Linked DNA regions of Homo sapiens: region 1 is linked to region 2. Evidence: fine-mapped expression QTL. A gene starts in region 2. The other region holds a variant in brackets. All regions are shown on one strand. Distances are from middle to middle. Region 1 overlaps PTPN22 (protein tyrosine phosphatase non-receptor type 22). Region 2 holds the start of HIPK1 (homeodomain interacting protein kinase 1).

What was found. PIP is the estimated chance that this variant, and not a neighbour inherited with it, causes the effect.
Region 1: its variant is the best candidate, but not a certain one, in a credible set for the expression of HIPK1 in whole blood (INTERVAL, PIP 0.89).

What each region holds. Positions count from the first base shown.
Region 1 is chr1:113,840,158-113,855,929 of GRCh38, reverse strand. PTPN22 (protein tyrosine phosphatase non-receptor type 22) reads left to right here. Exons shown (of 21, transcript NM_015967.8): 8 at 881-1,023; 9 at 1,393-1,459; 10 at 3,826-3,903; 11 at 7,304-7,390. All of the region lies in intron 3 of AP4B1-AS1 (AP4B1 antisense RNA 1), which reads right to left. Among named protein-coding and RNA genes, the nearest start is that of PTPN22, 24 kb to the left of the region's middle. The variant AAT/T (reference allele first, on the strand shown) is at 6,334.
Region 2 is chr1:113,922,192-113,937,963 of GRCh38, reverse strand. It overlaps HIPK1 (homeodomain interacting protein kinase 1), which reads right to left and starts at 8,640. Exons shown (of 16, transcript NM_198268.3): 1 at 8,432-8,640. HIPK1-AS1 (HIPK1 antisense RNA 1) reads left to right here and starts at 8,439. Exons shown (of 3, transcript NR_110726.1): 1 at 8,439-8,602; 2 at 9,576-9,720; 3 at 13,632-13,963. RefSeq lists enhancers at 1-209, 8,410-8,729 and silencers at 7,910-8,219, 8,240-8,289.

The DNA of each region.
Region 1 (15,772 bases), 82 kb after region 2:
AGCTGAACAGTGCATAGAGACTGGGGACCAGTTTGAGAGCTTAGGCTGCCCTAGGCCCTGCCCAGCTTCTCTAAGGCAAAAAGATTTAATATATCAGCATGATTGTGACACATTGGAGGCATACCAGTTGGGAAACACTGGTTTGAACTATTTTCATATCTAGCTATTTCCTCTTGTGAATGGGGCAGATGGGGACAAACCAATAGTAAGTGACCTGAAATCACTTTTAATGGTTTTCAGAAAGCATCTGGTCACCTGAGATCTATAGAGAAGAAACCGGAATAAATTTCAAAAAGGATATAGATACAACTTAGTATGCCGGACTGTTGTCTTGGTATAATGAGGTGGAGTTCTAACCACAAGTTGTCTTATTATCCTGGCTATTTTTAAAATAATTTCAACTTTTTTTTTTTTTTTTTTTTTTTTGAGACAGAGTCTCGCTCTGTCACCCAGTCTGGAGTGTGGAGTGTGCAGTGGTGCAATCTTGGCTTACTGCAACCTGAGCCTCCTGGGTCCAAGCAACTCTTGTGCCGTGGCCTCCCCAGTAGCTGGGACTACAGGTGCTCACCACCTTGCCTGGCTAACTTTTGTATTTTTAGTAGAGACAGGGTTTCCCCATGTTGGCCAGGTTGGTCTTGAACTCCTGACCTCAAGTAATCTGCCTGCTTCGGCCTCCCAAAGTGCTAGGATTACAGGCGTAAGCCACCACACCCAGCCTCAACTTTAATCTTATGAATATAAGACACAAGGGCGTAAATGTGCAGGTTTGTTGCATGCATGCCACTGAATAATCCCATCACCCAGGTAGTGAGCATAATACCCAATAGGTGGTTTTTCAGCCCTTGCCCCTCTTCCCCTCCCATCTGGCTACTTTTTATAGGAAACTCGAACTATCTACCAGTTTCATTACAAGAATTGGCCAGACCATGATGTACCTTCATCTATAGACCCTATTCTTGAGCTCATCTGGGATGTACGTTGTTACCAAGAGGATGACAGTGTTCCCATATGCATTCACTGCAGGTATGACACTATATATAAACCTTCTACCCAAAATGAACCAAATGTCAGAGTCTGGCCAGGACTGTGTAATTGAAAGGGGAAAAGGTTAATAGCAAAAACAAACGATAATAAATTCAACCTAAGCATTAAATTCATGTTTTTCTGATAAGTTACTTGTGAGTAGTACAGTTCTAGAGACTCTTGCTCTGAGATGTTGCCTAGGACCTCTTGCATGACAAATGGGCTCTGGGAAATGGTGGGGTTTGGAAAGTTTAATTGTCCCCAGGTATCTTCTTCCTCAAATCTGCTGGTGAAATTTTCCAGCTACTGTCAATGGTCCATTCTCTCTAGGTATACATGCATACATGCTACTGTGATCTTTCATTTCAGTGCTGGCTGTGGAAGGACTGGTGTTATTTGTGCTATTGATTATACATGGATGTTGCTAAAAGATGGGGTGAGTTTCTCTCAGCAGGCACTTCCCATTTGCTTAGTCTACTGCTTTCATACTTAGTAATTGTTTGGTTTTTCAAAACATCTATCTTCATGATTCATCTTTTCTAGAAAATGTACTTGTAGACCCACTCTGTCAGACGATTAAATTAGTTCCCAGGTAGGTGGGTCTTAAAGGGTGGTCCCCAGACAAGAAGCATCAGCATCACCTGAGAACTTGTTAGAAATGCAATATATATTGGGCTAAGATATGTTATTAAAATTAATTTCACCTCTTTTCGGTTTTGAATGTGTCTATTTGAAAATTTAGGCCGGGCACAGTGGCTCACGCCTGTAATCCCAGCACTTTGGGAGGCCGAGGGAGGTGGATCACGAGGTCAGGAGATCGAGACCATCTTGGCTAACATGGTGAAACCCTGTCTCTACTAAAAATACAAAAAAATTAGCCGGGCATGGTGGTGGACGCCTGTAGTCCCCACTACTCAGGAGGCTGAGGCGGGAGAATGGCTTGAACTGAGGAGGTGGAGCTTGCAGTGAGCCAAGATCGCGCCACTGCACTCCAGCTTAGGTGACAGAGCGAGACTCTGTCTCAAAAAAAAAAAAAAAAAAAAAAAAGCAAAAAAAAATTAGCCAGGCATGGTGGCATGTGCCTGTAATCCCAGCTACTCAGGAGGCTGAGGCAGGAGAATTGCTTGAACCCGGGAGGCGGAGGTTGCAGTGAGCTGAGATTGAGCCACTGTACTCCAGCCTGGGTGACAGAGAGAGACTCCGTCTCAAAAAAATAAAAATAAAAATAAAATACATAAAGGAAAAGAAAGAAATTTTTGGCCGGGCATGGTGGCTCACACGGTAATCCCAGCACTTTGGGAGGCCGAGGCAGGCTGATCACCTAAAGTTGGGAGTTCGAGACCAGCCTGACCAACATGGTGAAACCCTGTCTCTACTAAAAATACAAAATTAGCCAGGTGTGGTGGCGCATGCCTGTAATACCAGCTACTCGGGAGGCTGAGACAGGAGAATCACTTGAACCTGGGAGGTGGAGGTTGCAGTGAGCCAAGATCATGCCATTGTACTCCAGCTTGGGCAACAAAAGTGAAAGTCCTCAAAAAAAAAAAAAAAAAAGAAAGAAAAAGAAAATTTAAAATCACATATGTGGCTCACATTATATTTTACTGGATATCACTGTTCTACTGTTGCCATTCTGAGTTGACAATTCTAATCAAAACCAAGCAAACTTGGCTGGTTGCAGTGGCTCATGCCTGTAATCTCAGCACTTTGGGAGGCTGAGGTGGGCAGATCACCTGAGGTCGGGAGTTCAAGACCAGCCTGACCAACATGGAGAAACCCTGTCTCAACTAAAAATACAAAATTAGCCGGGCCTGGTGGCACATGCCTGTTATCCCAGCTACTCAGGAGGCTGAGGCAGGAGAATCGCTTGAACCCGGGAGACAGAGGCTGCAGTGAGCCGAGATCGCGCTGTTGCACTCCAGCCTGGGCAGCAAGAGTGAAAGTCCGTTTCAAAAACAAAACAAAACAAAAAGCAAAAATCAAAACCCAAGGAAACTAGATATTTCACTTAGCTTGTGCAGCTGTTTTAGTAGACATATGATTTCTGTTAGTTCTTGTGAAATACTGAAAATAGGTCAAATATTTCTATTTCTACTTTGTCAGACTCCCAGGAAGTCTGTAATTTATATGTCCTTTAATGTTTGTTTTCCAATCTTTGGAGATTCCAATAGTGTAGGGGTTGAACCCCAAGGGGGTTAGGTGCACCTAACCTAAGGTGAAGGCAAATTACTGGGCCCCACCCCATTGAATTGAATCATGTCTCTAGAGATGGGGGCCCAGCAAGCTGTCCAGGTGATTGTGATGCATGATGAAGTTTGAGGACCACTGTCCTAAATTATATAGTTACCCTTCCTTTATCCAAAGATGCTTTAATAGATGGACTCAACTTACTGCAATCATACTTTGCGTTCCAATCTATAAATCATTTTTTAATGTCTAATAGGAAATGGGAAGTTTAAAATATGGCCTTTAGACCTACCTACCAACCTCTTTTATTTTATGCAACTCTCATACTTGTGCATCTACTGAATCCTGTCCCTCGTTATATCTATAGTTTTAGACATTTGGTTATACCGTGTGAAATCATTCTGAAGAGTTTCTTTAGTCTTTTCTAGGGAAAATACCAGGCTCTAAATCATGTTGCAAGTGATAAGAAACCTCATTTGTTTTAAAAATGCATCATTTTTCTGATATTACCCCATGTTAGAAGAGCAGATGCCATGGAAGTACAAGACTATGAAAAAGTAGCAATAATTTATTAACAAAATATTGAAAGGAATATTTTCCCCTTTAATTTGATAGATAATTCCTGAGAACTTCAGTGTTTTCAGTTTGATCCGGGAAATGCGGACACAGAGGCCTTCATTAGTTCAAACGCAGGTATGAACTATAGTGAATGGATCAGAACATGTGTCTGAGTCTTGCTCCATCTGTTTAATGGTGAGGCATCCAAAAACAGCTGACTGCTCAGATATAACACCAATTTACCATTACGTGCTCTAGAGTCCATTGCCATTTTCTCTAACTCTGAATATCCCAATATTTTTCCTGTATCCCTTGTCCTGGGTCAAATTCCTTTCATTCCTTATTTTACTGTCTGTTCAGAAAATATTAAGATACCAATGTAATATTACTTACTTCCTTACAAAGGATGTTGTAAAAGTATTCAACAAACTGACTTGTGGACTTGAAATAGCTAGGTCATGTTAATTTGAAATTTTGTAGTGATAAAATTCATCTCTGAAAGCATAGAAAATCAGGGATTTGTAATTTCTACCCAGGATGTGGTAACAGAATATGGAGAATTCAGTCTATGTGCTCGTTTTAGGAAACACTGAAAAATAAAAATAAAAACCATATTCCTATTACCTACAGATAGCCACTATTACTATTTTTCTATAGTTTCTCCTGATTCTTATTGCATGCATACTTAAAAAAGAAAAAACATAATTGGGCCGGGCGCGGTGGCTGACACCTGTAATCCCAGCACTTTGGGAGGCCAAGGTGGGTGGATCACCTGAGGTCAGGAGTTTGAGACCAGCCTGACCAATATGCTGAAACCCTGTCTCTACTAAAAATAAAAAAATTAGCTGGATATGGTGGCAGGCACCTGCTAATCCCAGCTACTTGGGAGGCTGAGGCGGGAGAATTGCTTGAGCCTGCGAGGTGGAGGTTGCAGAGGGCCGAGATCACACGACTGCACTCCAGCCTGGGTAACAGAGTGAGACTCTGTCTCAAAAAAAAAAAAAATTACAATCACACTCTATTTATGTATCACAATCTTTTAACCTACCCCAGAATACCCATACTTGTTCACTCCATTAGGAATGCTCTTCCCTTCTCCTAGCCCAAATCTCTCACTGCCTACAATATTAATTTCACCCATATTTCTACACGAATAGTTTTACCCAATAGTTTTAGTTTTCTAAGTGGTCTCCATTTTTAATATAGAATTTAGAATTGACCCATTCATTCATGAAACGTGTATTGATGTTTATTAACAGGCACTTTTGTGTAATTTGTTAGAACTACTTTTAACTACTTAAATAGCAAGACCTTAAAGTGTTTAAAACACTTACAAATGAAGATGCAAATAGTTTTAGAGATAAAACAACTGACAATGGCAATTCAGATATTTAGTCTAGAAGTTGTGAATTAAAGGGATAAAATAAAGAGCTATTATAATATAAAACTGTTTGGCCTGCACAGATTTTCCACTAATAGCTGGTGGAAAAAAATAACTTTCATGTGTGCTGAGTGTAGGTGTTTTCTATATTCAACCTGTGAGGGAGAAAGCTTATGTGAAATGAAAGCATTAGCTGGTTTAATGCTGTCAGACTTGAAAGAAGGCTGATCCATGTAAATGCATAAAGATTCCAGAAGTATGGAACCTAGTTATATAAATAGCAATACTAATTTAATAAAACTATACCCCATTTCAAAAACGAATTTCATTTCAGGCCTACTTTTAAGAGTTGGAAGACGCTGAAAAAGCCTTCACATTTTGGCATTATCAAACAACTAACTGAACTTGACAGTTGTAGCTGTTTTTTCTGACACTACTGTAACCAGGAAATGGCACTGTAACCAGATGAGAGCTTCCTGTCTGATTTTTCTTTTTCTTCCTTTCTTTCCTTCCTTCCTTCCTTCCTTCCTTCCTTCCTTCCTTCCTTCCTTCCTTCCTTCCTTCCTTCCTTCCTTCCTTCTTTTGAGATGGAGTTTCACACTGTCACTCAGGCTGGAGTGCAATGGTGCGATCTTGGCTCACTGCAACTTCTGCCTGCCGGGTTCAAGCAAGTCTTCTGCCTCAGCCTCCCGAGTAGGTGGGACTCCAGGCACGCATCACCATGCCCAGCTAATTTTTTTTGTATTTTTAGTGGAGATGGGGTTTCACCATGCTGGCCAGGCTGGTCTTGAACTCCTGATTTCGTGATCTGCCTGCCTCGGCCTCCCAAAGTGCTGGGATTACAGGCGTGAGCCACCATGCCCAGCCCTGATTTTTCTTTCTTAAAGAAATTAGCCAGATGTGGTGGCTCACCCCTATAATCTCCGCACTTTGGGAGGCTGAGGCAGGTGGATCACTTGAGCTCAGGAGTTCAAAACCAGCCTGGGCAACATAGTGAGACCCTGTCTCTACAAAAAATACAAAAATTATCAGGGTGTAGTGGCAGGTGCCTGCAGTCCCGACTTACTTGGGAGACTGAGGTGGGAGCATCACTTGAGCCTGGGAGGTCGAGGCTGCAGTAAGCCGAGATTGCATCACTGCACTCCAGCCTGGGCAACACGGTGAGACCGTGTCTCAAAAAAAAA[AAT/T]AAATAAATAAATAAATAAAGAGCATACTAATGGCTGTGTTGAATGATATAGACTCTGCATTGTTTCCTGCTAAAATTATCTTTGAAAAAAAATTGTTCTTTATTTGTACAGAAATGTGTAAAGTGTCAGGGAAAACCCTGAATAGGCCCTTTCAGGTAAAACCCTGATTAGGCCCTTTCAGATAAAAAGTAGGTTCAAAATTAAGTGCTTGAGAAAGTACAGGCAAAAACAGAGTAGTAATAACTCATAAACCTTGTAATAATAGAGGTCTCATTTCTCTATGGTGAAATCCTTTTGTAACCACAAATTTCAAAACCTTATTTAGTGGTTTACTTTTTTTTGGTATCTTTATTAGGACAAAATTTTAGCAACTTTATCTAAATGCACTGAACTAAGAGTGTGGAAATTAAGTTTCTAAGCCAAGCCCTGGAAATTCCTTCTGAATGACCTGGGATAAACTGTTTGTAAATAGGTATAAATAGCTTATCTACTTTATAGAGCAATTGTGAGGACCAAATTAAAGCATAGACATTGAAGTTATCTATCTATATACCAACCACTATCTCTTTTTCCAGAAAAGATGAAGGTTGCTTACAAAAAATCCATCTAGAATGAAATATTTTTTTTTTTAATGTGAGCAAGGGAAACAGAATTAGAGAAATGATGGTGGAGAGAAAGATAAGAAACTAGGTTTAGAACATAAAAGAAACAAGTCATAAGATTCCTGTACATTAGTTAGAGGTGTATCAAATATTTAGCTATTTTCAGCAGCATAAAAGTGCTTTGAAATCTGAAGTGAACTACGTAAGCATAAGGCATTGTTAGTAAGTTTAATAACATGCCGATCGTCCTTTTGGGTCTGCTATATTAGGATTTGATTGGTGTTCATATTCCTAAAATCTGGTCCTGTCGTTCACCAATTTTTTTGTTTTTGTTTTCATTTGTTCTGGGTTGTGATGCTCTTCAGGAACAATATGAACTGGTCTACAATGCTGTATTAGAACTATTTAAGAGACAGATGGATGTTATCAGAGATAAACATTCTGGAACAGAGGTAAAATTTAAACTAGATATTATGTCAAAAAAATTTTCATACTTGCTTTTGGTCAAGGGATGTCAGATTTGTTGCAGGATTTATCTATTGTCACAACTAAATTGAGAGCGTCAGGTGTGCATAGGGCTGCACTGAAAATTTCCTGTGGAAAATGACAAATTAATTTGATGTAATTTAACTTAAAAAATTAATCTCACTAAGTCCGGTGGCTCACACCTGTAATCCCAGCATTTTGGGAGCTCGAGGCAGGCAGATCACCTGAGGTCAGGAGTTCAAGACCAGCCTGGCCAACATGGTGAACCCCATCTCCAAAAAAAAAAAAATTTAGCCAGGAGTGGTGGGGCATACCTGTAGTCCCAGCTACTCCAGAGGCTGAGGCAGGAGGATTGCTTGAACCTGGGAGGTGGAGGTCGCAGTGAGCTGAAATGGCACCACAGCACTCCAGCCTGGGCAACAAAGTGAGACCCTGTCTCAAAGAGAAATAAAAATTTAAAAATAATCTCTTGGCTGGGCAAGGTGGTTCATGCCTGTAATCCCAGCACTTTGGAAGGCCAAGGTGGAAGGATTGTTCAAGCCTAGGAGTTTGAGAGCAGCCTCAGCAACATAGCAATTGTCTCTACAAAAAAATTTTTCCAAATGGCCGGGTGCAGTGGTTCACTCCTGTAATCCCAGCACTTTGGGAGGCCAAGGTGGGGTTTTGCCATATTGACCAGGCTGGTCTTGACCTGGGATCAGGAGTTCAAGACCAGCCTGGCCAACATGGTGAAACCCCATCTCTACTAAAAATACAAAAATTAACTGGGCATGGTGATGCGCACCTGTAATCCCAGCTACTCAGGAGGCTGAGGCATGAGAATCATTTGAACCCAGGAGGCGGAGGTTGCAGTGATCTGAGATTGCACCACTGCACTCCAGCCTAGGTGACAGAGCAACACTCTGTTAAAAAAAAAAAAAAGCCCCAGCAAAAAGAGAAGGCTTAACTAAGATTCAGAGTCTCATAACAATGTGAAAATACCCAGATTTCAGTTGAAAATCACTTATTATACCAAGAACCAGGAAGATCTCAAACTGAATTTAAATAAGGACAATAGGTGACAACACCGAGATGATACAGATGTCAGAATTATCTGACAAGGATTTTAAAGCAGCCAAGATAAAAATGCTTCAATGAGCAATTAAAAACATAGTTAAAACAACAACAACAAAACAATAAAAAGAATGAAAATATAAAAAAATAAAAAAGGTAAAAACATGCTTAAATCAAATTAAAAAATACAAAGCCTCATCAAAAAAAAAAAAAAAAGAGTCTCAGCAAAGAAACAAGATATAAAGAGAACCAAATGGAAATTTTAGAACTTAAAAATACAGTAACTGAAGCAAAATAGATGGGTTCAACAGCAGAATAGAGGGTACGGAAAAAAGAATTAATGAATTGAAAAGTAGAACAATAGAAATTGCCCAGTCTGAGCAACAGTGATAAAATAGACTGAAAAAAAAATAAACAGAGCTGCAGGGAACTAAGGGACCAAAAAAAAAAAAAAAAAAAATCTAGCATTGGGTCATCAAAATCCAGAAAGAAAATAGAAAGGGCAGGGCTGAAAAAGTACTGGAAGATACATCATAATTAAATTTCTGAAAACAAAAAACGACAAAAAAGTTTTAGAAATCAGCCAGAAAAAGATGACACCTTAACTGTAGGAGGAAAACAATTAGAATGACAGCAGATTTTGCATTAGGAATCATAGAGGTCAGAAGGAAGTGGCACAATATTTTCCAAGTGCTGAAAGAAAATAACTGTCAATCCAGAGTTTTACACCCAGTGAAAACATCCTTCAGGGCTGAAGGGGAAATCAAGACATTCTCAGATGAAGAAAAACTAAGATAATCTGTTACCAGTAGACCTACCCTAAAAAAATGGCAAAGGAAACTTTCTAAACCGAAAGGGAATGATGAAAGAAGGAAGAAAGAACATAATAAACAAAAGTGGGTAAATATAATAAACTTTCCTTCTCCTCTTGAGTTTTATAAATTATGTTTTACAATTGAAGCAAAAATATAACACTGACTGATGTTGTTCTAAATGTATTAAAGGAAATATTTTAAATGATTATAACAGGAGGATGGTAAGAAACATAAAGGAAGGTAAGGCTTCCACACTTGAACTGGTAAAATGATAACACCAGTAGAGTGTGATACCATATATCTGTATCTATATCTAGAGCCATGACTAAAAAAAGGCTATACAAAGAGATATAATAAAACACACTATAGGTAAATCAAAATGGAATTCTAAAAAATGCAGGAAAGAGAAAGCATCAGGAAAAAGAAAAGAGCAATGAGAAACAGAAAGAATAAAGAGAAAACAAAAAATAAAATAGCAGAATGAAACTTGACCATATTAATAATTACATTAAACATATAAGCCTAAATACACCAATATTTACTGGTGGTAGAGTGAATTGCCAGACTGGCATAGAGAATTAAAAAACAATTCAACTATATGTTGTCTATGAGAAACTCACTTCAAATATATAAGAGGGCTAAAAACAAAGGAATGGAAAAAAGTTATATCAGTAAACATGAATCAAAGGAAAGCAGGAGTGGCTATGTTAATATCAGATAAAGTAGACTTCAGAGCAAAGACAATTATCAGAGATAGGGAGATAATGATAAAAGGGTCAATCTGCCAGTAAGACATAATAGTCCTAAATGTATATAGACCAAACAATGAAATTGCAAAATATGTGAAGAAAAACTCATAGAACTTAAAGGAGAGAAACAGATGATTCACAGTCATAGCCAGAGACTTCAATATTCTTCTTTCAACAATTTTGATAGAACTAGACAGAAAACCAGCAAGGATATAGGTGAACTCAACACCACTAACTGACAAAATCTAGTTGACACTTACAGAACACTCTACCTAATAAGAATACACATTCTTTTAAAGTGCTTATGGAAAATATATATCAAGATAGAGTATATCCTGAGCCATAAAAATCTGAAAAATTTGAAAAATTTTTTTAAATTGAAATTAGCCTGGGAGCAGTGGCTCACACCTGTAATCCCAGCACTTTGGGAGGCCAAGACAGACGGATCACATGAGGTCAGGAATTTGAGACCAGCCTGGTCAGCCTGGCCAAACCCCATCTCTACTAAATATACAAAAATTAGCCAGGTGTGGTGGTGGGCACCTGTAATCCCAGTTACGTGGGAGGCTGAGGAAGGAGAATCACTTGAACCCGAACCTGGTAGGCGGAGGTTGCAGTGAGCTGAGATAGCATCACTGCACTCCAGCCTGGCCAACAAAGCGAGACTCTGTCTCAAAAAAAAAAAAAACAAAAACAAAAACAAAACAACCAAAATTATACAGAATATATTTTCTAACCACAATAGAATCAAATTAGAAATCAGTAACAGAGACCGGGCATGGTGGCTCTTGCCTGTAATCCTAGCACTTTGAGAGGCCAAGGTGGGAGGATTCCTTGAGGCCAGGAGTTCAAAATGATCCTGGGTAACACAGGGGGACCCCCGTCTCTACAAAAATTAAAAACTCAGCCAGGTGTGATGGCATGTGCCTGTAGTCCCAGCTACTCAGGGGGCTGAGGTGGGAGGATTGCTTGAGCCTGGGAGGTCAAGGCTGCAGTCAACTGTGATTGTGCCACTGCACTCCAACCTGGGTGACAGAGCAAGACCCTGTCTCAAAAATTAATTAACTAATTAAAAAAAGAAAAAAATCAGTAACAGAAAGGTAACGGAAAAGTATCCAAATCCTTGGAAATCAAACCACACTTTTCTAAATAATCTATTGGGTCAAAGAGAAAGTCTCAAAGGAAATAAAGAAACACACTGAATTAAACAAAAATGAAAATACAACATACCAAAATTTATGAGACAGAAGCAATAGCAGTACTGAGAGGGAACTTTATAGCACTAAGTGCATCCATTAGAAAACAGTATAGGTCTCAATAATCTAAGCTGTCACTCCAAGAATATAGAAAAAGAAATAAAGAGCAGAAATCAATGAAATTGGAAACAATAATAGAGAAAAATCAGAATTGGTTTTTTGTTTGTTTTTGTTTTTTTGAGACAGAGTTTCACTCTATCACCCAGGCTGGAGTGCAGTGGCATGATCTTGGCTCACTGCAACTTCCACCTCCCAGGTTCAAGCGATTCTCCTGCCTTAGCCTCCCAAATAGCTGGGACTACAGGTATGTGCCACCATGGCCAGCTAATTTTTCTATTTTTGTAGAGATGGGGTTTTGCCATGTTGGCCAGGCTGGTCTTGAACTCCTGACTATCTGCTTGCCTCGGCCTCCCAAAGTGCTGGGATTACAGGCGTGAGCCAAGGCATCCAGCCTGGTTTTTTTAAAAGATAAAAAAAAATCGTTCTTTAACAAGATCAATGAAATTGACAAACCTTTTTAAAAACTGACACAGATAAAAAGGGAGAAAATGAAAATTACCAATATCAGGAATGAAATAGGAGCTATGTTGTCCAGGCTGGTCTTGAACTCCTGGGCTCAAGGGATTTTCCTGCCTTGGCCCCCCAAAGTGCTAGGATTACAGGCGTGAGTCACCACACCCGGCCCAGAATGGATTATTTTCTCAAACACAATCTACCACAATTTACTCAGCATGACATAGATAATTTGAGTAGCCCCTTAGTGATTAGAAAAATTGAATTTGTAATTTTAAAACTCCCAAAAAAGAAATCTCAGGCCCACATAGTTTCACTAGAGAATTCTATCAAATGGTTAAGGAAGAATTAACACCAATTTTATACAGTCTATACTAGGAAATAGAAAAGGAAGAGATACTTTCCAATTAATATTTTTATTGTGGTATAATATATCATTTTAATTTACTATTTTAGCCATTTTTAAGTGTACAATGTAGTGTCATTAAGTATATTCACAATGTTGAGTGACTATCACTATTTCTGGAACTTTCATTATTCTAAACAGACCCTCTGTATCCATTAAACAATAACTCCCTATTCTCCCCTCCCACTGGCCCCTGGCAACCATCCTTCTACTTTCTGTCTCTATGAATTTGACTACTGTAGGTACCTGATATGGGTGGAATCATATAGTATTTGTCCTTTTGTGTCTGGCTTATTTCACTTAGCGTAATGTCCTCAAGGTTCATCCATGTTGTAACGTGTCACAATTTTCTTACTCATTAAGGCTGAATAATATTCCATTGTATATGTTTATACACACACACACCACACACACACACACACACACATTTTGTTTATCCATTCATCCATCAATGGATACTTGAGTTCCTTCCACTTTTTGGCTGCTGTAATGCTGTGATGACCATGGGTATACAAATATATATTTGTATCCCTGCTTTTAATTACTTTGGGTATAACCCAGAAGTGGAATTACATGTGGTAATTCTATGTTTAGTTTTCTTTTTTTTTTTTTTTGAGACGGAGTCTCGCTCTGTCGCCCAGGCTGGAGTGCAGTGGCGGGATCTCGGCTCACTGCAAGCTCCGCCTCCCGGGTTCACGCCATTCTCCTGCCTCAGCCTCCCAAGTAGCTAGGACTACAGGCGCCCGCCACTACGCCCGGCTATTTTTTGTAGTTTTAGTAGAGACGGGGTTTCACCGTTTTAGCCGGGATGGTCTCGATCTCCTGACCTCGTGATCCGCCCGCCTCGGCCTCCCAAAGTGCTGGGATTACAGGCGTGAGCCACCGCGCCCGGCCGTTTAGTTTTCTTTTAGAACAGCCATACTCTTTTCCATAGCAGCTGTGCCATTTTACATTCCCACCAACAGTACACAAGGATTCCAATTTCTCTACATCCTGGCCAACACTTTTTATTTTCTGTTTTTTGTTTATTTGTTTGTCTTTTGAGCACAGTCTCGCTCTGTTGCCAGGCTGGAGTGCAGTGGCGCAATCTTGGCTCAATGCAACCTCTGCCTCCCGGGTTCAAGCGATTCTCCTGCCTCAGCCTCCCAAGTAGCTGGGATTACAGGCACATGCCACCACGCCCAGATAATTTTTGTATTTTTAGTAGAGATGGGGTTTCACCATGTTAGCCAGGATGGTCTCAATCTCTTGACTTCGTGATCCGCCGGCCTCGGCCTCCCAAAGTGCTGGGATTACAGGCGTGAGCCACCACGCCTGGCCTATTTTGTTTTTTTGATGGCAGCCATCCTAATTAGGTGTGAAGTGGTATCTCATTGTGATTTTGATTTATATTTTCCTAATGATTAGACACCTTTCTGTGGTCTTATTGGCCATTTGTATATCCTCTTTGGAAAAATGTCTCTTCAAGTCCTTTGCCTTCTCCCACCCACCCCTACTTTTTTTTTAGTCAGGGTCTTGCTCTGTCATTCAGGCTGGAGTCCAGTGGCACCATCATGGCTCACTGAAGCCTCAAACTCTTGGGCCTTAAGTGATCCTCCCACCTCAGCTCCTGAGTAGCTGAAACTATAGGTATGCACTACCACACCAAGCTAATTTTTTTTTAATTTTTTTTTTAGAGACAGGGTCTCATTATGTTGCCCAGGCTAGTCTTGAACTCCTGGCCTCAAGGAGTCCTCCCATCTCAAACTCCCCAGTAGCTGAGACTAAAAGCATGAGCCATGGTGCCCAGATTTTGCTCATTTTTTAATTGAGGCTGTATGCGGTGGCTCACGCCTGTAATCCCAGCACTTTGGGAGGCCGAGGCGGGCAGATCACTTGAGGTCAGGAGTTTGAGATCAGCCTGGCCAACATGGTGAAATCCCGTCTCTCCTACAAAGACAAAAATTAGCCGGGTGTGGTGGCGTGTGCCTGTAATCCCAGGTACTTGGGAGGCTAATGCAGGAGAATTGCTGGACCCCAGGAGGCAGAGGCTGCAGTGAGCCGAGATCGCACCACTGCACTCTAGCCTGGGTGACAGAGTAAGACTCTGTCCCCCTCCACCAAAAAAAAAAAAAAAAGAGTTGTTTACATGTTGTTGAGTTTTAGGAGTTCTCTATGTATTCTGGATATTGATCCCTTATCAGATATGTGATTTGCAAATACCGTCTTCCATTCAGTCAATGGGTTGCCTTTTTGCCTTTGTGTCCTTTGGTGTGTAAAAGTCTTAATCTCAATGAAGTCCAATTTTCCTATTATTCTTTTGTTGTTTGTGCCTTTGGTGTCCTATCCAAGAAATCGTTGCCAAATCCAATGTCATGAAGCTTGCCCATTTTCTTATAAGAGTTTTACATTTTACTTCTTATGTTTAGGTATTTGATCAATTTTTGAGTTAATTTCTGTATCATAAGATAAGGGTCCAACTTCATTCTCTCTCTTTTTTTTTTTCCTTTGAGATGGAGTTTCGTTCTTGCTGCCCAGGGTGGAGTGCAATGGCGTGATCTTGGCTCACTGGAACCTCCACCTCCCTGGTTCAAGTGATTCTCCGGCCTCAGCCTCTTGAGTAGCTGGGATTACAGGCATGCGCCACCATGCCTGGCTAATTTTGTATTTTTAGTAGAGACGGGGTTTCTCCATGTTGGTCAGGCTGGTCTCAAACTCCTGACCTCAGGTGATCCACCCGCCTCAGCCTCCCAAAGTGCTGGGATTACAGGCATGAGCCACCGCACCCAGCCTCAACTTCATTCTTTTGCATGTGTATATTCAGTTTTTCCCAGAATCATTTATTGAAAACACTCTCCTTTCTCCATTGAATTTTCTTGGCACTTTTGTCAAAAATCAATTGCCCACCATATGTAAATGTTTTTTTCAAAGCTCTTCTATTCCATTGGTCTTTAGTCTATACTATGTCAGTACCACACTGTTTTAATTACTGTAGCTCTGTTGCAATTTTTGAAATCAGGTAGTGTGTCATTCAACTTTGCTCTTCTTTTTCAAGATTGTTTTGACTGTTCAGTGCCCCTTGAAATTCCATGAATTTTAGTCTGTTTTTTAAACAAATTATGTAAAAATGCCATTGGGTTTTTGATAAGAATTGCATTGCACTTGTAGATCACTTTGAATGTCTATTTATTTATATCTTATTTAATTTCTTTCAGCAAAGCTTTGTAGTTTTCAGTATACAAGTCTTTTGCCTCCTTGGTTAAATCTATTCCTAAGTATTTTATTCTTTTTGATGCCATTATAAATATAACTGTTTCCTTAATGTTCTTTTCAGATTGTTCATTGCTAATGTATAGAAATGCAACTCGTTTTATGTGTTCATTTTACATCCTGCAACTTTGAATTTGTTTATTAGCTCTAGCAGATTTTTTGTGGAATCCCATATATAAAATCATGTCATCTGAGACTAGAGATAATTTTACTTCCTTTTTTTCCAATTTTTTTTTTTTTTTTGAGATGGAATTAAGTTAGGGTCTTATTCTGTCGCCCAGGCTGGAATGCAGTGGTACGATCTCGG
Region 2 (15,772 bases):
ACCTGCCTTAAAATGCACTCCAAAATCTGCTTGCTGCCTTCCAACATCTCCCCACTTTGATTCCTCCCCTAACCCCCACTCTAGCCACACTGCCTTTCTTTCTTTAGTTCTTGGAAGGCCACTCACCTCCAGGCCCTCTAAATATGTTGAAGACTTTCTGCTGCGAAAACTGCCCTGACACCTCTGTCACATGCAGAAACGCTCCCTACGATCACCCCCTGCCCCCACCATGCATTCCCACAGCAACCTGTTAACTTGAAAGTATTTATTTAATGCTACATTCCCAGCTACAGTATAAGCTCCGGCACATGTACCATCTCTGTCTTGCTCTTCTATCACCAAAGCCTTATACAGACTGACAATATATACATACTCAATTATCTGTTGGATGAATTATTTGACCCCTGCCTACCAATCTCATATCTATTAAATACAACTCCCTACCACTCACATTCAACTGTAGTATTTTCAAATGCTCGATCCTTGATTTTTTTTTTTTAATGTCTTCCCTCCTTTTTATCTGTGTGGTCCTTGAGTCATGGGGGAAGTCTCTACTCCAATCCATACAGTATAACATTACTAATCATAAAAGAATAAACACAACAAGAAAGGAAGGAAACATGACAAAGGATGTTACAGAACATCAAAAGGCAGTAAGTACATTTCTTTGTGCCTGAATACAACTAGAAACCACCTGCACTGGACTAGTCAGCTGGAAAGAACAAATCCTCTGCCTTCAATTTCTAAAACTCAGTTGAGATTTACTTTAAGAGTTTCCATAATTTATATAAACTTTGAAGAGAAAAAAAAGTACAAATTAAAAGCTAAGGTCAGTACAATTTAACTGTGAGGCTGAATTTACAAATCATCTTGTTCTACCTACTTCACTGAAATACCAAATATAATAAAAGAAAAATCTGAAACCAAGTACCTCCTTTACAAAATGCACCTATTAAAATATATGTGTAAGTATTTATCATAAAATTAAGCCAACCTGTTGAACAACAAAAGGAAGCAAATTTTCTAAATTTGTTTTCCATTAACAATGTTAATATTGTTCACCTAATTTTAACAATCTATCAAAAAACATAAACACAACTTTTATGTAACTTGAAGTATTTAGTGAAAGAATCTAAATAGAAAATTTGCAGTTTGTAGCAACTGTCTAGGAATAGGGGGGTCATAAAGTAATACTGAAAAGAATTCATGAAATACCAAATTTTTAAAAATGTATTCATTTTGGGAGGCCAAGGCAGGCAGATCATGAGGTCAGGAGTTCGAGACCAACCTGACCAACATGGTAAAACGCCATCTCTACTAAAGATACAAAAATTAGCTGGGCGTGGTGACACGCACTTGTAATCCCAGCTACTCAGGAGGCTGAGGCAGGAGAATCACTTGAATCCGGGAGGCAGAGGTTGTAGTGAGCTGAGATCATGCCATTGCATTCCAGCCTGGGCGACAGAGTGAGACTCCATCTCAAAAAAAAAAAGGATTCGTAACTAGATACTCTATAAAATTTTGCATTTGGCAGAGTAACATTATTGCCAACTTTTTACCCAAAAAACATAATAAAAGATTACTTATGATTTCAGATCTTCACACTGGGCACTGAAAAAAGTACAAGTTCTAGGATATTTTTCAGAATGTTTTAATATTAAATGATTATAGTTCTTATCCATAAAGACAAATTTAGTTCACCCAAGGGGAAAGGACAACTCAGAATTCTTTCACTGGTCTTCCCCACAGCAAGGGTGTGATGTACAAAAAGTCAGTATCAGACCACCGGGGTTCTTACAGTGTGGCTGAGACTCATTCTGACCTCAATTAACACAAGGTGAGAAGAAAATACAGAATCACAATGGCCTAGAAAAACCAACAGACTCTTATTTATATTCTACTCTGAAACTCAGCTAAAACAGCAATTTCTAGACACAGGATAAAGATATTATGTTCTATTAAACTTGCCTTTGCAAGTGGGGAGGCAATTCTCTTCCTAGGTGGAGAGCTTTCAAACAACAACAACAACAAAAACAGAATTAACATCTGTGGAAAACTTACTATATATCAGAATCTGTGAGGCAAATTACAGATATTTTCAATTCAATGTGAATAGCAACTCAATAAATTAAAAAGCTATTTTTGACACACTTGCAGTCAACAAGCATATGAAAAATTGCTCAACATCACTAATCATTAGAGAAATGCAAATCAAAACTAAAATGAGATACCATCTCACACCAGTCAGAATGAATATTATTAAGAAGTCAAAAAATAACAGATGCTGGCAAGGTTGTGAAGAAAAGGGAACACTTATACTGCTGATGGGAGTATAAATTAGTTCACCCATTGTGAAAAGCAATGTGGCAATTCCTCAAAGAATTTAAAACAGAATTACCATTAGATCCAGCAATCCCATCACTGGGTAAATACCCAAAGGAATATAAATCATTCTACCACAAAGACACAAGCATATGTTCACTGCAGCACTATTCACAATAGGAAAGACATGAAATTCAACCTAAATGCCCATCAATGGTAGACTAAAGAAAATGTGATACATATACACCATGGAATACTATGCAGCCATAAAAAAGAACAAGACCATGTCCTTTGCAGCAACAGGCAACATGGATGAAGCTGGAGGGCCACTATCCTAAACAAACACAGAACAGAAAACCAAGTACTGCATGTTCTCACTTAAAAGTGGGAGCTAAAGAACGAGAACACATGGACACAAAGAGGCCAACCACAGACACTGGGGCCTACTTCAGGGTGGAGGGTGGGAGAAGGGAGAGGATCAGAAAAAATAAATGTCAGGCACTATGCTTATTACCTGGACGACAAAATATCTGTACACCAAACCCCTGTGACATATAGATTACCTATATAACAAACCAGCACATGTACCCCTGAACCTAAAATAAAGGTTTAAAAAAAAAAAACAGCTGATTCTTTTTTTTTTTTTTTTTTTGAGACAGGTTCTCACCACTGTCAGTGAGGCTGAAATGCAGTGGTGTGATCACAGCTCACTGTATCCTCGAAATCCTGGGCTCAAGCAATCCTCTGCTTCAGCCATCCAAGTAGCTAGGACTACAGGCACACACCAGGACGCTTGGCTAATTTCTACAGGCACATGCCACAGTTGGCTAATTTTTTTTTTTTTTTTTTTTTTTTTTCAGAGATGAGGTCTTACTATGTCACCCAGGCTGGTGTCAAACTCCTGCTCTAAAGCAATCCTCCTCCTGCCTTGGCCTCCCACGATATTGAGATTACAGGCATGAGCCACCGTACCTGGCATAAAAAGTTATTTTTGACTTCCTGAAAATGCTGCGCCTCTTGACTCCAGCAATAAATGAAGTCTTTACATTTCAAATCTGACTTTCCAAGGACTTAACCATCTCAATATAATGACAAATTTGCCCAGTTCATTAATACCAAAGTAGCAATGATGGGCAAAAGATCATTGGTACTTGTACTTATTGCTAAAAGATAATAGCTAGAATCCAAGGCTTTCAAAAACAGATTAACAACTTTCCCACTCCCTGGCATGGTCACATCCATTTAACATTATTTACTGGGTGCTCCACACTATAAGCACTATAGGCAAATAATCTTATTAAAAGGATCCAAATATTATAACCCTGAATGGAACAGTTGGATAAGACAACCCAGGTAATCATTTTCCATTGATTTGTCCTTACCCCTCAGTAACCTTTTTCCTGACACACCAGTAATAAATTCCTGTTGCTTTTGCTCAATGTTATCTTTGCCTCTTTCATACAATTTAACAGCTGGTTAGCCAAATGACCTAAAAACTGTACTATATATTGATTTCTTGCTCCAGCACTTATCCTCAGATGACATGAACACAGGTATACATATTGTCTATCACATACTCTGATACATATTTTTTACAGATGATAAGAGTACATCTTCTGTAAAAACAAAGTGAGACAAGTTTGGGAAGAAAATTCTTCCCAACAGAACACCTAAATCTCTCTCTACTCTCCTAAGTTTTCTCCACCCCTACTGCACAATCCCATACTTAAACAGCTTAACTGGTTTCCTCCAAATTGTACTCTCAACTTCCCCCCTTTATTTGAGACTCTGTCACCCAGACCGGAGTGCAGTACACGATCATGGTTCGTTCACTGCAGCCTGGACCTCCAGGGCTCAATCCACCCTCCTACCTCAGCCTCCCGAGTAACTGGGACTACCAGTACATGCCACCACGCCCAGCTAATTTTTTTGTATTTTTTGTAGAGACAGGGTTTCACCATGTTGCTCAGGCTGGTCTCAGACTCCTAAAGTGATCCACCTACCTCAGCCTCCAAAAGTGCTGGGATTACAGGTGTGAGCCACGATGCTGGCCTCAAGCCCCTTTTCTAAGCTCCCCTCTCCCAATTCATTATTCACCTCTCAACTGAAGCTTTTAAAAATGCACATCTGAAAAAAAAAAAGTGTACCTATCCCCCACTTAAAACCTTAGGACAAACACCAAAATTCCTAATTTGGATTACCAGGCCTTGCAAGATCTGGACCACGATTACTTGCACAGCCTTGTTTCATCTGCGCTTTTCCCCAGGCACTTTCTCTTCCAATACTACCAAGTCTCTCTGGGTTCCCACAATAGACCTTGCCTTCTCTGGCCCTAGTTCCTTCAACATGTTTCCTCTCTGAACTTCATTTTCCCCCTTAGGCTTTTCTTTTCCTAACTTTTACTTACCCTTCTAGTCTCTGCTTAAAGCTCACTTCTTCAGTGTGGCAGAGGCTGTTGCTTTGTATCAAAATCAATAGTTCACTTAGATTTATTTGGAATGACTACGGCAACAGAACAAAAGAAAAGTAAGTGCTTTGTGTTTAGTAAAAAGGTACTACATTTTAGTACCTGCACATAACAGTCTATAGGTCTATAAAGCTTAGAATTAAGAAAACTATACCTTGAGGAGTTTCCAGGATAAGAAAAAGTTAAAATTAACAAAGCAGAGATCAATATGAAACATAAACAATATGCCAGCAAAGGCTGAAGGAAAACGGGACTTAAGTAAGGCAACAGCAGTTTGGAGAATGGAAGATGGAGGAGGCTCTTTCAGAAGAATGAGATGACTTTTGCTATGCTAGTATGCCAAAGGATGTGGAAAAATAAAAAACCGTGTAGAGTAAGGAGATATATTTAACTGGAGCAGAAGACACTAGCAAAAAAGTACTGGAACTCTTACAGATAAAAGGGACCTTAAAGATTCTAAAACCCCCTAATTCCGAGATGAGAAAAAGGCGATCCAGGCCAGGCATGGTGGCTCACGCCTGTAATCTCAGCACTTTGGGAGGCCGAGGCAGGTGGATCACTTGAGGTCAGGAGTCTGAGACCAGCCTGGCCAACATGGCAAAACCCTATCTCTACTAAAAATACAAATATTAGCCAGGCATGGTGGTGCGTGCCTGTAGTGCCTGTAGTCCTAGCTACTTAGGAGGCAGAGGTATGAGAATCACTTGAACCCACCACTGCACTCCAGCCTGAACCCACCACGGCACTCCGACCTGGGCGACAGGGCGAGATCTTGTCTCAAATAAAAAAAAAAAAAAAAAAAAACAGATCCAAAAAGGCCAAACGAGTTTTACCCAGCGCTAATGAGTAGCAATGCTGGCAAAGGTCTTCTCATTCTTTTTCCTTAAGCACTCTGGGAAAGCACTGTACCAGGTACCCTTAAAGAATCTAAAAGAAATGTAAGTTTCCTTACCTTCAAAAAACTTAAAATGTTGCTGAAATGATATAACACATGAAAAAGAAAGAAAAATATGAAAACAGGATGTAAATTTTTCAAGTGCCAAATTATGCACTACAGGAATATATTAGGCATTTAGGAGCTGGGTTCCAACAACTAAAGGGAAGATCAGGAACAAAAACAAAAGGAACCAAAAGACAAACCAGTGATTGTTGAAGTGGTACTTAAAGGAAAATAATCTTGATGACTTGTGTTCAGAATGGCACAAAGGGAGAGGAAGGGAAGATAACGGGAGGAATAATAGTAAATTTTTTTTAAAAAGACCTAAAAAATACAGACTGCTGTTATACACTCATGCAGGTGGCAGATCAAGCAGCTCATGTTTGCAAAATTACTTCAAATTACAAGACCAGTTACAATATATAACTAACAAGCTGCACAAGTTCCAAGTGTAAGAACTTTACAAGGCCGGTATGACTCACTGATTTGTACCAACAAATCATTGATGGAGCTGTGCTTATAAAAACAAAAGCACAGAATGAAAGAAGTTTATTTTCCAAAGAATTGTGAACTTTGAGATTATCTCTTCTTTTTTTTTCTTTTAGAAGGAAGTTCTGGTTTGGTTTGAAGTCTCAAGTTACCAACGAACTTGCTCAAAAAACCACAAAACTACAGTGTCGAGAGATAAACTATTCATGAAGGTATCACCAGCAAAAGTTCTACTTGCCAACCAGAGCCAGTATATTTATAAGATCTCATTCACCATTTTATTCTAAGATACTTTACTGGCTTGGCTGCCTCCAGTTCCAACCGCAAGTACTTTACTAAAATATCTTTCAAGCCAGGAACAGTATCTTAAAGTCAATGCCACCCTTCATCATAACAGTATTATAACACAGAACCCTGAGATAATTACATGTAAAGATCCAAAATCACCAGCTGAATAATGAAAATTAGGTCAAATGATTTGTTAGATTTTAAAATGTTTTATAGAAAGCTTTAGGCTTCCATATGAAAAAAGCTAGTAATAGTTTGCATTCTCTATAATCTTACAAAAAAAAAAAAAAAACCCACAGACCAGAGATCAAAAATAGCTTTACACAAACAAAAGGAAAATTGTAGGTTTGCTGAGGGCATCAGCCACTTAATTTAACCCTATTTCATCAAGAGCGGGAAGCCACACTGCTGTTTTCACCAGTTACTAAGAAACAAGATAAAGGACAGATTGGGACAGAGAGTCTATAGCTGAAAGTATTATGTTGATGCAATTACTGAGAATTCCCAAAGTGTCACTAATAGACAAGAAAGAGCATCTAGGACTGCCTCTAAATGAGTCTACCTACAACAGAATCAGTGATTAAGTAAAGAAAAGACTTACTGGAGCTTGGGGGTTTTCCCCCCCTCTTCCCTACCCGCATCCTCCCATCCTGAACCCCCCTCCCCAAGTAGGAAAGAAAGCTCGCCCAGCATAAACACAGGCCATTGCTCACAGCTCGTCACCACAACAAACTGGAGGTTAGACCAACGCTCCTGGAGACGGAACTCCACGTCTTGGTTGCTAAGCACAAAAAGGGGACTCTTCCCCACAGACCTGTGAACAGTGTGGGCCTTACCAGAATTTTGGTTGTTTCTCCACCTTCCCCCTCCCTTTTGTTTTTTTAACGAAAGCTTTGAAAGTGGTGGCAGCAAAAGTTTCCCTTTGGGCCAGACCTCTAGATCTCCCTTGTACAGATATACATTAGGTGGGCTGGTCTCACGTAGTCTCCACCGTCATTACGAATTACAAGCCTAACGACTACAGAACATCAGCGGAGACGACAGAAAAGCTTCCACACCCACCCCACTGTCGTCCTCTCCAGGCACGGCTTCCTGGTCCCAAACAGCACAAATAACCCAAAACCATGGTGATAAGCGGAGCTGTGAAGTACACACGCACAAGCCACACACTGGGAACCTGCCACGACAGCCGGGGAAAAAACCGGCCGAGTGAGGAGACGCAAGGCGGTCCCCTGTCACTTAAGGACAACACGCCCAGGCGAGAAGTGGCAGGAGGCAGGGGGAGTTGCCCCGAAAACCAGCCCGGAGCCTCCCCACCTTCCTGGGAAGGCAATCCCCTCAGCGGCAGTGAGCGGCCGGGCCGCAAGACGCGGCGCCCGGTCCCAGGCAGGGGCCCTTTGAGGAAGGCGCCCCCGGCAGGCTGGGCGCTCCAGGAGAGCCGGCGGCCGGCCCGGCCCCGCCTCAGGGAGCTGAGGGGAAGTCGCTCCCCGCCGAGGACCCCTCCTGCCCGTCCCCACTCACCGCCGGTGTGTCTGGTTCTCAGCCGCGAGCTGGGGCTGCCGTGAGGAGGCGGCGGAGGAGACGAGATCTGGGGCCCCGCAGCCGGGTCATCATACCCCCCGCGCGAGCCGGCCCGGGCCCCGGCCCCCGCCCCCCGGAGCCGTCCCCGCGCCCGTCCCGCAGGGGGAGCCTCCTCAGCCTCCCTCCCGCTCCACCACCCAGCCCCTTCCCGCCGCCGCCGCCGCCGCCTCAGCCCCGCGCGCTCCCGCCTCGGCCTCCTGCTGCCGTCCGGGGCTACCGCCGGGCCCCTTGCTCCGCAGCCGCCGTTGTCGCCAGACCCGACGAACGGAATGCCGAGCGGCCGTCCCTCAACCCGGCCGGCCCCGCCTCGCCGGAACTATTCACCCGCCCCGCGCCATGACACCTACTGAGGCGGAAGTGCAGCTGAATGGACTCTCTAGGACGATCGCATAGTACTGATTGCAGTAGGAGTCGGTGGGCCTCGAGTAGGTGGGCCTCCGTAGGGAGCCAGCGTGGATCGAGTGCGGGGCCTGGACTTCCCGCCCCCTCCGCACTGCAGACTCTGCGGTGATTTAAAGGTGCCTGGCGGTGGTACGGGATCCAACTGTAAAATGTCATCCCAGCTAGTGTGACATCACCACAGTTTAGTGTGACACCCCCAGAGCTTGGGCAGTGTACGGGACGACAGTGCCTAGCAGAGGAGCTTCACTGCCGGTGAGGGATTACCTCAGGTTAGGCTTTAATGTTTCGTTGCCGTCTAGAGACGTTCTAGCAATGTGACATCTGTGTACCATATCTGGAAGTCTCCCTGTACGTCAAGAGCCCCTTAGGGGAGTCTCCCATTGCCGCCGTGGGAACCTGTGTTTACATTACGAGGAGAGAGAATAGCTGTACTCTGAACTCAAACGCTCAAAACATGCAGTGAGCGAATGCTAGCATAATTTTCTTGCCTCTACCAGAAGGAAGGCTGGGTATTTAGGAAACAGAACGCGTTGGGCACAACATTCTGAGAAAATGGACACAGAAAATTAGGTTATCCTAATAGAAAAGCAGTTGCATCTCCCAAAGTCAAGAGATTCTGTAGGACTTCCGATGTATCTCCTGCTGTGTAAAATATTCAGGTTCCTGAAGTGGGGGACATTTTTAGGGCAACTGTAATTTCTTCATTTTTTCCATCCCACAAGTGCTGGAGGCAGCAGTGATCTGAGCTCTAGAAAGTGACTGTCCGTCACCATCGGTATTTGCATATACTCTGTGAGGAGAAGGGCAGTTGTGGCTAAGACAAAATTCTACTATCAAGTTTTGTTTCTCAAATCTCACTCATTAACATCTTTGATTTCCTTGGATCCCCATAACACACACAGAAAACTATGATTTGTGTAAAATGCGCTGAAGTACCTTTTAAGGGAAGTCATTTGGCTTTCTCTCTGGCTTAACAACACGGGGAGCAGTTCCATTTTATCTGGAACAGGGAAGTTTATTTCCCTAGAGAACTAGGGTTACCAAAAATGTTCGATCCCACAAGGCAGTTTTGTTTGCATATTTTCACAGAAACTTCCTTCTACTACTTAAAGTCCTCACATTGGGCTGACCTGGGAAACATGAAGATAAAAAGAGTGGGTAAACATGCCTGCTTGATGAGCCAGAAAAAAAGGCAGAAACCTGTGGTCTGGGTAGAACAGATCCTGCTCAGAATGTAAGCTTCAAACATGTTTATCATGCCTTGGTTCAACCTAACTCTCTGACATGTTCCTAAACTCCTGCTCTCTCAAGTTATGTCCCTTTCCTCTTTTCAAATATCTCTCAGAATTCACCCTTTCGGGAACCTTTGCTGATTGACTCCTATTTTATTTGAATTCTGCATCATCATCTGATTACTTAAATTAACCTGTACCTTCTTTATTTATACTTGTTAACTTCTATTTTCATTGCTCTTAGGTCCTCAGTCTTTCTCACTATACGGAGAGCTTCTTAAAGTCTGTATTTTCTCCTCTTTAGTATCATTCACTCATTCATCCAGCAAACTGCTTGTGTGCCTGCTCTGTGCTATACACTCTTCTAGACACTGGGTCAGGTATGAATGAGACAGGTGAATAAAGCATGGTCTTTTCCCTCAGGGACCTTACAGTCTAATGAGGAAAAAACGTGTGCAGACATATATAAGATAAGTGAGAGAGTCGGAGAAGAACATCAGAAGTGATATTTGAGCATAGTAAGGTCAAAGAAGTTTCAAAGTTTAGTCATTTGTCCATTCAGTAACTATTTATAGAGCATCTTCTGTGTGCTAGGCACTATATAAGAAATTAAGGGGCTGGGTGTGGTGGCTCATGCCTGTAATCCCAGCACTTCGGGAGGCTGAGGCAGGTGAATCACCTGAGGTCAGGAGTTCGAGACCAGCCTGGCCAACATGGTGAAACCCCGTCTCTACTAAAAATACAAACATTAGCCAAGTGTAGTGGCGCATGCCTGTAATCCCAGCTACCCTGGAGGCTTAAGCAGAAGAACCGCTGGAACCCAGGAGAAGAAGGCTACCATGAGCCGAGATTGCACCATTGCACTCCAGCCTGGGCGACAGTGAGACTCTGTCTCAAAAAAAAAAAAAAGAAAGAAAGAAAGAAATAAAAAAAAAAGAAATTAAGGATACACAGAAGAAAAGGCATGGTCTGTGCCCTGAAGGAGCTTACAGTTAAGCAGAGAAGTTGCACGATTTGGAAGTAGTAAGGTAAATTGAGTCAGATTTTGAAAGGCAATGTAGAGCTGTTAGAAGTTTATTCGCACAGGTAGCCAGGCACAGTGGCTCATGCCTGTAATCCCAGCACTTTGGGAAGCCAAGGTGGCAGATCACTGGAGGTCAGGAGTTCAAGACCAGCCTGGCCAACACAGTGAAACCCCATCTCTACTACAAATACAAAAATTAGCCAGATATGGTGGCATATGCTTGTAATCCCAGCTACTCGGGAGGCTGAGGCAGGAGAATCGCTTGAATCCGGGAGGCAGAGGTTGCAGTGAGCCGAGATCGTGCCACTGCAGTCTAGGCTGGGCAAACAGAGCCAGACTCTGTCTCAAAAAAGAAGTTTATTCAGACAGGTAATGTGAGAGAGAACTAGTGATGGTGAAGGAAGAGGGCTAGCTGGAGTGGGTAAAGACTGGAGAAAGGGATCCTAATCAGAAAACTATGATGAGGGTTTGATTACACAGGAAAGAAGGCGAGAAGGGGCAGATATGTGAAATACATCCTCCTAAACCAAGTCAGAGCAACTGGAGAGGGAGGTGGAGCAGTTAGCAATCGGAAGCATTCAAGTTTCATTCAGGGTATGACATCCTTCTAGGGCCTACAGCCTAGATTCAGTGTTGCAGGCAAGAAGTCATTTGCCCAAGAGCGGCAGTGCTTAAGGCCAAATAGGAGAAGCTGATGAGAAGGCTGTGTCTTGAGAGAAGCTGAACCAAAAAGCTAGGCAAACTATTCAAACAAATAGTGAATCCTAGGGGCTAGGAAAAAAAAGAGAATTTAAATAGAAGCCAACAGGTTGTGAAACTGGGAAAACCAGATTAGAGTGAAGGTCTGCAGTAAACGATAAAAAGCAGAAAAGTCCCTTGAGCCAACAGGAGGAGAACCTCAATGATTTTTTAAAAATCCAGACCCCAGAATACTTTTTATTTGGAAATAATGTTAAACATACAGATATGTTGCAAGAGTGACAAAAAGAGGACCCAGATTATTAACATCTTGCCCCTTTTGCTTTATCATTTGCAGTTATAGATAGATAGAGTTATATTACACACATACATGCCTTTTTTTTTTTTTTTTTTTTTTTTTTTTTTAGACAGAGTCTCACTCTGTCACCTAGGCTGGAGTGCAGTGGCATGATCTCGGCTCACTGCAACCTCCACCTCCTGGGTTTAAGCGATTCTCCTGTCTCAGCCTCCCGAGTAGCTGGGATTACAGGTGCCCGCTGTCACACCTGACTAATTTTTTTGTATTTTAGTAGAGACGGGGTTTCACCGTGTTACCCAGGCTGGTCTTGAACTCCTGAACTCAGGCAATCCACCCACCTCAGCCTCCCAAAGTGCTAAGATTATAGGTGTGAGCCACCGTGCCCAGCCCACGTACATATTTTTTTTTCCAAGCAGTTAAAAGTAAATCGCATGCATCATCCTCCTTTACCACATAATACTTGAATATCCTAATAAGTACATTCTCTTATGTAAACAAAATACATACAATTAACAACTCCAGGAAATTTAACATTGCTGTAATACTTTACCATCCATGTTCCAAATGTTGTCAGTTGATCAAATAACATCATTCTTAGCATTTTTTTTATTTTCCAGCACAAGATCCAGTTTAGGATCATATATTACATTTAATTGTCATGTCTCTTTAGTGTTCTTTAATCTGGCACAGTTCCTCAGCTTTTCTTTGTCTTTAATATTTTTGAAGAATACAGGACTTTTTCTGGTAAGGGGTAATAAAATGTTCTTCATGGCTGGGCGTGGTGGCTCACGCCTGTAATCCCAGCACTTTGGGAGGCCAAGGTGGGTAGATTGCAAGGTCAGGAGCTCAAGACCAGCCTGGCCAAGATGGTGAAACCCCATCTCTACTAAAAATACAAAAATTAGCCAGGCGCGGTGGCAGGTGCCTGTAATCCCAGCTACTTGGGAGGCTGAGGCAGAGAATTGCTTGAACCCGGGAGGCGGAGGTTTCAGTGAGCCAAGATCATGCCACTGCACTCCAGCCTGGGCAACAGAGCAAGACTCTGTCCCCCCGACCAAAAAAAAAAGATCTGAGCATTAGGCCCACAGTGATTTATTACTGAATGCTTGTATGTGAATATCAGCCCTTCAGCCTCCCTGCTCATCCCTTTCCTCAGGTTGCAAGCCTTAGGTATTACCAAGATTTTTCTCTTAAGACTCCTTTTGAGTATCCTTAGCAGAGAAAGCTTGCATAGGGAAATTTGGCAGACACTGTCCGTTGCCTATTCAAATGAATAGTTAGGTTTAGCTAACTTGTGTAGCAAACAATCCCCATACCTCAGGGGCTTATGGAAAGGTCACTGCTAGCTGGTCCATGATGGCATGTGCTTATAGTCCCAGCTTCTCAGGAGGCTGAGGCAGGAGGATTGCTTGAGCCCAGGAGTTCAAATCCAGCCTGGGCAACATATTGAGACCCCCATCTCTAAGGTAGATAGATTAGATACATGGATGGATGGATGGATGGATAGATAGATAGATAGATAGATAGATAGATAGATAGATAGATAGATATTACTGATATTGGTGAGAGCCACTACTCCCATCTCTGAGAGAGGGAGAGAGAGAGAGAGAGAGAGAGAGAGAGATAGTATTTGATCTTCGAGAGAGCGGTTTTAGTGGCATAGTTTGGGCAGAAGCTGTGTGGTTCCTATATAGGATTACTCATAGTATGAGTGGTGACTGACAATCTGGGAAGAATGGCCTGGTCCAGCTGAATGGTAGAATCTATTCTGGTCAATACCCATATTCAGCTCTCAATATCCAAGGAATCTGCTTGGGTCCACATCAGCTACATCTGAGAAGTTATGAAATGAATCATTTTGACTACATTCTCTATCACTTCTCTTCTCACAGGTATAAACCAGGAAAAGTTGTTCTGGCCCCTCATCTGGTTTCATGAAGGACAATATCTAGCATGAGAGTGACAGGGGTTAGAATAATGGACATTTTGGGGACTGGGTCCTAGCAGAAATGATGGAATAATGGAACAGGAGTTTGGATGAATGGGCATATTATGGGATTAAAGAAGATTTGAATACAAGCTTTCCTAATAAATGAAAGGGGAGGTGAAACTAGAGCATGCTGATGGCTGCACAGCATTGTGAATGCACTAAATGCACTAACTGTCCACTTTAAAATGTTTAGTAATATGTCGATTTTACCTAAATAAAAAAAAGGAAGCAACATAGTGAGTCATCGTCTCTATAACAATTTTATTCAGATGTCTTGGAGGATAAACCTTTCTTTTTTTAATTAGCCAGGCGTGGTGGCACACACCTGTAGTCCCAGCTATTCAGGAGGGTAAGGTGGGAGGATTGCTTGACCACTAGAAGTTGAGGCTGCAGTGAGCTATGATCTTGTCACTACACTCCAGCCTGGGCAACAAAGCAAGACCCTGTCTCAAAAAAAAAAAAAAAGTGGGGTGGCAGGGAGGGAGGTTTTCAGGATTTAGAGACAAGGCACAATTACCCTTAATTTTCAAGGGTCAACCCAGAGACTATTGTGGGGAAAGAACAAATGCCTTGACTCCTTATATAACCCATGTTTATGACTCCTCAGACCCTCCTTCCTCCATAATCATTTCTAATGTCACCCTTTTCTACACATAATGATCTTACTCTTTCTCACTTTTCTCATATACCAACTGTTTATGTAGCAAAAGCAAGGAATAGTGCTTTTTCTCCCTTTCCTTGGGTCAGCATTTCTCATTATTATGCTTCCTCTGTTATGTAGTTTCTAACCTTTTCTTTTTTTAAAAAATCATCCTCCCCACTCTAAGATTCTCACCTTTTCTTTGACCAACTGTTACACAGAATTTAGCATCTGCATTCCATATGTCTTTCCCTATCATCAATTTCAAGCAATATCTAAAACCAAAATAAATGGTTTGGGAAGGCACACAGAGACCCACATGAAAAGGGCAATGGAGCAGAACAGGAACTTGAAATTTAATAATTGAATATTATTTGTGCTAAGTCATTTTGTACTTCCCACAAACTCAGAAATCAAAAAGCCCCAATGAAGTGTCCCCTGCCCAGCACAATTCCTTACACATGGTTGGTGCTATAACTGTTTTCATGAGTAAATTACTGAGCGCTTATTCGCAGTGCTCAAAGCATCAGGATCAGTTAACTATAGAATAGGGGTTAAGAAACTTCAAAAGGACTGGGTACAATGGCTCCTACTTGTAATCCCAGCATTTTCGGAGGCTGAGGCAGGAGGATCGCTTGAGTCCAGGAGCTGAAGGACCAGTGTGGGCAACATAGTGAGACCTCATCTTTACAAGAAAAAATTAAAAATTAGCCAGGTGTGGTGGTGTGCACCTGCGGTCCCAGCTACTTGAGAGGGAGGCTGAGGTTGGAGGATTGCTTCAGCACAAGAGACTGAGACTTGTGCCACTGTACTCCAGCCTGAGTGACAGAGCCAGATCCTGTCTCAAAACAAACAAAAAAAAAAAGAGAGAGAGAGAGAAGAAGGGAGGGAGGAAGGATGTCAGGGAGGGAAGGAGACTTCATATTGTTCACGCCTGTAATTCCAGAACTTCAGGACTGGGAGGCCGAGGTAGGAGGATTGCTTGAAGACAGGAGTTGAAGACCAGCCTGAGCATCATAACAAGACCTCATCTCTATTTAAAAAAGAAGAAACCTCAAAATAACAATTATCGTCATTGACTGTGAATTTAATTTTTTTATTATTACTTTTGTAAACTCACTTTGATGAAACCTGTAAGCAGTCAACAGGTGGTTCTTTTCACTCAGGGTAGGATAGGGGAATGTGCTCTATGCAAACCCTAGAGGGTAAATTCGCTGATGTGAAATAGGCTTTTACCTGACCAACCTCACTGCTCCTAGGATATCCAGTATAGAAAAATAGGAGCTTCAGAGCCTGACATCCATAGGAATCCTGACTCTGGTAGGGATTAGGGTATGATGGTGGGCATCTTAACGAGAATCACTTTCCTCATACTGAAAATGAAGATGATAATACCTTTTCCT